Linked DNA regions of Homo sapiens: region 1 is linked to region 2. The links come from fine-mapping of genetic effects on gene expression. Tissue or cell type: prefrontal cortex. Region 2 holds a variant in brackets; the other region holds the start of a gene. All regions are shown on one strand. Distances are from middle to middle.

Region 1 (2,683 bases), 59 kb after region 2:
CTTGTCTCAGGGGCCCAGCCCCACAGGATGACAGAGCCTAGCACCCTGCCCTCTCCCCACTGCCATCTCTGGGCAGGCAGTGCTTAACCCAAAGGAAGGAACCTTGAATCTTCATAGGGTAATTAGCAGACACACACACACACACACACACACACACACACACATACACACGGGTGCTTGGCTGTCGTCCCTCATATATGCCCTCGGACAGTGCTCAGCCCTTCCTGCACAACAGGTACCAGTCCTCACAGGCTAAACACGTGCTCCTTGCTTAGAGAAGTGGGAACTGCAGATCAGTGCCTCAAACGTTCCCCACGCAGGAGATGTGAGCGTCCCAGAGCCGGGATTGGGGCTGCAGGGGCCCAGCAGGCCTGCAGCAGAGACCTAGGCTTCTGCTGAGGGAGCCCTGGGAAGTGGGATACACCTTGAGCTGGGTGGGTCCGTACCTCACCCTGGTCCTCAGAGGAGCCAGGGCCCCCATCTCACTCTGCCTGCCGCCACCCCCACCCCTTGTCAGGGAGGCAGACTGAAGCCAGCGGCAGATACAGCCCGCCTGCTGCCAGCTTGCCCAGAGCTGGGCTTAACGGTTAACCTGACTCTTCGTCCGGTTTATTTCCCAGGCTGGGGTCAGAGGTGGGGGCCTGCCCCAAACCAAGAAGCAGGAGGCAGTAAATATTTGCCAGTGCAGGAGTGTCCATGTAGCGTGAGCAGGTCCTACACCACAACTGCCAGCTGCAGAGATTTCTTTTCTTTTCTTTTTTTTTTTTTTGAGACAGAGTTTTGCTCTGTCACCCAGGGTAGAGTGCGGTGGCGCCATCTCGGCTCACTGTAACCTCCGCCTCCCAGGTTCAATTGATTCTCCTACCTCAACCTCCCGAATAGCTGGGATTACAGGCGCCCGCCACCACGCCCGGCTAATTTTTTGTATTTTCAATAAAAATGTGGTTTCACCATGTTAGCCAGGCTAGTCTTGAACTCCTGACCTTAGATTCCGCCTGCCTCGGCCCCCCAAAGTGCTGGGATTACAGGCGTGAGCCACCATGCCCGGCCTAATTTTTGTATTTTAGTAGAGACGGAGATTCACCATGCAGGGCATATTTCTAAAAGCAATGGGGGCAATACCTAACACTGGCACACACAGCAGAACCCCCCCACCCCGCCTAGAATGCTCTTTGCACGGTCAAAGCGACTATTCCCCAGTCAGCACTGGGGCCAGAGGGTAAAGAGGTGCCAAAAGCCACCTCGTCTCGGCCGAGCTCCGCGTCTCCCCTGGCGGCTCCAGGCCCTCGGGTTCTAGCGCCAAGACTGACGCAAGCAGGGCCTCCTCCAGTGTGATCAGGCCAAACCGAGGAACCCACTGGCCTCGCTCCGGCGCGGGGTGGGGCGGGCGCTCAGCCTTCGGACCCGGACGGGGCAGGGCCGCGGTGATTGGAGGCGGGGCGACTAGGGGCGGCCCCGGGAGCGGGGCGCAGACAGCCCGGCCTCCTGTGGGTTCGGCGACCATCGCGCGGCGGCCATGGGGGCGCGGCTGGGCCGGCGGGCCGGGCCCGAGGCTGGCTCTGAGGCCGGGGCGGCGGCCGGCTGCGGGCCCGCGCCCTACGAGCGCCGGGTGCGGTGGCTCCGCGAGATCCAGTCCACGCTCCGCGAGCGGCGGCCGGAGCGCGCCCGGCAGCTGCTGCGCCTCCTGCGCCAGGCGAGAGAAGGAGCCGTCCGCCCCTGGGCTGGCGGCCAGGGAGGGTCTGGGGGTCTGGGGGTCTGGGAGGCGCGGGGCTATGGGTTGTGGGCCTGTATCCGCCGGGAGGCGAGGCGGAGCTGGTCTCTGGCGCGCGCAGGCGGGTTCCGAGGGCGCGACAGGCTGCAGCACGCGGGGTCTTGCGTGGGCGAGAGGGCGACCGCCTGGAGTGAGGGCTGGGTGAGGTCGGCGGACCGTGTGGAGGAGGGGGCTGCTGAGTGTGTCCGGGTCTTTGGGGTTTGAGAGGGGTTGTGTGTGTTGAGGGTGGCCCGGTAGCCTGGACCTAAGAGCCCAAATTCAGGCCCTGGCAAGATGGGAGGGGCCCGGGAGGAGTGGCAAGTGAGGTCAAATCATCTTGTATTGAGAGACAATGGAAGAGGGTAACTTCCCCCTCCTCCAGGATCCGGGAGACAGTGGACCCTGGAGAGAGGACCCAGGGCTGGTCTAGGGATGCAGCCTCACCCCAAGACACCATGGCAGCCCACAGAGAGCCATCCATGCATCACCAGTTCTCCAACAGGCGGCTCATGCCCTTAGAGTACACATCCCCAGCATCTGTGCATCACAACACTCGGTCCGGTGGTGGCTCTGCTCCTACACACACCAGGTACACTAAACCCAGATCCCAACCCCTGGGTTGTCCCAGGATGCTGGTCCCCCCAATCACCTGGGCATGCCACTTCCCTCACCACCCCGTCCCCACCCCCTACAGCAGCTACCACCACTACCTGCCCCATCCTGTGAGCAGGAAGTCAGCCATGCAGGTGTTCGGCCTGCAGAAGGTAGATTAGAAATGGGGAAACTGAGGCATGGAGCGAAGTGGTCACCCCAGGGCCCACAGAGAAAATGTGGGGCAAGCCAGGGCCAGAGCCCTTCTTCCTCCCTTCCCTTCTCCACCTCCTCCAACTCTGGATTCAGCAGGCTGGAAAAATGGAGCTGTCCGTTTAAGAG
Region 2 (2,683 bases):
CCTTCCCTGCAGCCTGGGCTTGGCCACCTTGGCCTGATTGAGCACTGAGGCCTCCTGGGCACCCAGCCCTATCACTGCACCTGCTGCTTCCAGCCCCACCCCACCGGCTCTGGGGTTCTTCCCAGCGGCGCTGATCATGAAGTCAACATGCACGCAAGTCGTCTCAGGAAACTTTTTAATGAAAGTGTCGGCCACGGTGGTGTGTAGGTGGCTGAGCTCAGATTGCAGCTGCTAAGACACCAGCCACTTACCAAGAGAAAGCCAGGCTGCTTCAAACCCAGGGCCCGCGGCAAAAAAGCATCACTTCCGGCCGGGGAGTCTGGAAGCCACGCCTTGTGGGAGGTCACACTGGCATCTAGGCCTTCGCCTGCACTGCAGAAGGAGAGCCGGGTCCCCTCCTGGAGAACGCTGCGTTCCCCAGCCCCACACCGGCTTTGCCACCACACAGGCTGTTGAGGCAGGAGGCGGGTAAGACGTAGCTGTAGACCCAAAGCAACCACCAGCCCTGGGACCCTGTGGGAGAGGAGCACTTTTAGAACATGGAAAAGTGTGGTCATCCCATCATTAGACAGCACACATCCTACATAAATAAAAAGTCGTATGGGGAAGGAGGTTGGGGAGGGAATAAAAAATTGGCACAGACATTGATAGACTGGTTTCCAGTTTCAAGGTAACAGATGCACATCATGAGACCAGAGGAGGCAGAGACAAGGGCTGGATTTGGCTTTTCTAAGCAACATGTGTTCCTGTGCAGGGCTGAATGGTCGCTGAGACAGAGATGGAAGCCAGGACAAGGGAGCCCACCGGGCCCAGATAGGTACAGAGAGCAGAGGCTCCTGTTCTGTCCTCGCCACCCACGAGGGTGACACTGCTTGTAAATGGTGGCTGTGCTCTCCCAGCAAGTAAAAAGCACAACTAAATCCACACTGCACACAGACGCAGACAGAAAGCCTTCAAGTAGCTCTGTTTTCTGCTCCCTGCCTTGCCAGGTCCACAAGCAGAGAGGAGTGTCAGGCACATGGCCCCACTGTCAGGCTCCCCAGTGAGCTGTGGGTTCAGCAGGAGCTGCCCACTGACACACAGGGGACACCCACTCCTGCCACCTTGGGAGCGGTTGCCAGACAGAGCCGCACTGGGTGCTGGTGTCATCCAGGGACCCCACACACTTCCTTAAATGTGATCCTGCTTCCCTCTGGGCAGCTGCATCCTCTCCTCCTGCAGGACCGTCTGGAAACTTGGCTCTCAGTTTGATCTCCCTTCTCTCCTCTGCCTGCCCCAAGCCCCTCTTTCTAAAAAAGTGATGCCATGTTCATGGGATTATTTCTTGAAAATACTTGGCGGCCTCCATGCTTCTGTTTTCTTTGAGCCAGGTGGTCAGGAGGGCTTACAAAGAATGCCTGGGCTCCCCCGCAGGTGCCGGCAGATGGGGTAGCGAATGGTCCTGTGCCTCCACCTGCTCCGGGAGGGAGTCTC[C/A]CGTCTCTAGGCCTGGCCCCTTCCTAACCCTCCACGTATCCTGTTCTCCAGAGACTTCAGAACCCACTCCTGAGAACAGCGGAGCCAGGCGCTTAGAGGAAGACCAAATGCTGCCAGGACACGGATTGTCCAGGGATTACATTCCAGCATCTTATTAGGTATCTGGATCTGTTCGGAAAAAAATTAGAAACTATGTATAAAACTTAAAAATATTCAAGTATCAAAAGGTTATTTAGGATGAAAGTTTTAAAACAAGTCATCAGCAAGCTGCTGCCACCAAGTGGAGACTTATACAAAAGATGAGCGAGTCCACTGAGCTGAGAGGACAGAAATGAAGTCACCTGTGCTGGGGCAGGGGCAGGGACACTGGGGGCAGGGAGTGTGTGGGCAGAGAAGCCAGAGAAGTCCAGGCCTGTGGAAGCCAAACAGGAGAGCGTGGGCCGGAAGGGCGGTCAGGATCGGGGGACGAGGTCGCTCTCCCTGGAGAACGAACCCTAAGGTGCGTAGCCTGGGATTCCCTCCCTGGGGGTCCTGTCCCCCGACATTTCACAGGCCTTCTGAGCTGCCTTCCAAGGAGGACTAACACGGCAACAAAAGACCCATTTCTGCACAAAAATCCTTCTGGAAAGAAAAAGAAGAAAGCCAAGAATGGAGTCAAAACGCTACCCAGTGCTGACCAAGCCTCTCAAACCCTGTTAGAAGTGGAGTGTGGTTTCTAAGTCAGGGAAATGGAAGAGGCCCCACCCACACAGGGACAGGGCCACGGCCCCCACAGGATGAAGCAGCAGCGTTTATTCAAGATACAACAGTGAGGGAATCCAGTCACGTTCCCTTCTCCCCAGAGAGGGCGCTTCTTGACAAGTGATTCAGTAGAAATCTTTTGGACTCTATAAGTTAAGTTCATAAAAACCACTGCTTTCACCCTGTCTCCCAGGGCCAGGCCTGGACTCCGAGATGAACTGGCTTGGGGCGCCCTCGGGTGGCCACATAAAAAACCCACAGTCTGAGGCCAGCCTGGGGCTTTCAGACCTGGGCGGGATCTGCCCAGGCCACCTGTCCTTCTGCTTTGGGCCGCTGTCTCTTGGCAGATGGCCTGACACCTGGGGGTGGCCCAAGGATGCCTCAGAAAATCTTGATTCCCACTCTACAGATGGCCCGATTAGCCAGAGGTTTCCAGGCCATCTGTCCGCCTCCAGGAGATGGACTGGGA

Direction of the effects. Positions count from the first base shown, and alleles are read on the strand shown. Sizes are in standard deviations (SD) of each study's normalised expression.
In carriers of allele C in region 2, the expression in prefrontal cortex of the gene that starts at base 1,483 in region 1 tends to be lower than with A alone (moderate effect, 0.46 SD a copy in ROSMAP).

The links. PIP is the estimated chance that this variant, and not a neighbour inherited with it, causes the effect. A credible set is the group of variants that fine-mapping cannot tell apart.
Region 1: it holds the start of LRRC75B, and the variant in region 2 is the best candidate, but not a certain one, in a credible set for the expression of LRRC75B in prefrontal cortex (ROSMAP, PIP 0.82).

What each region holds. Positions count from the first base shown.
Region 1 is chr22:24,591,873-24,594,555 of GRCh38, reverse strand. It overlaps LRRC75B (leucine rich repeat containing 75B), which reads left to right and starts at 1,483. Exons shown (of 4, transcript NM_207644.3): 1 at 1,483-1,693. The coding sequence starts at 1,517. It also overlaps a transcript of GGT1 not described here. RefSeq lists enhancers at 1-20, 1,070-2,062, 2,063-2,683 and a silencer at 1,356-1,585.
Region 2 is chr22:24,650,836-24,653,518 of GRCh38, reverse strand. It overlaps the pseudogene BCRP3 and the pseudogene POM121L10P. Among named protein-coding and RNA genes, the nearest start is that of GGT1, 49 kb to the right of the region's middle. RefSeq lists an enhancer at 1,896-2,663. The variant C/A (reference allele first, on the strand shown) is at 1,474.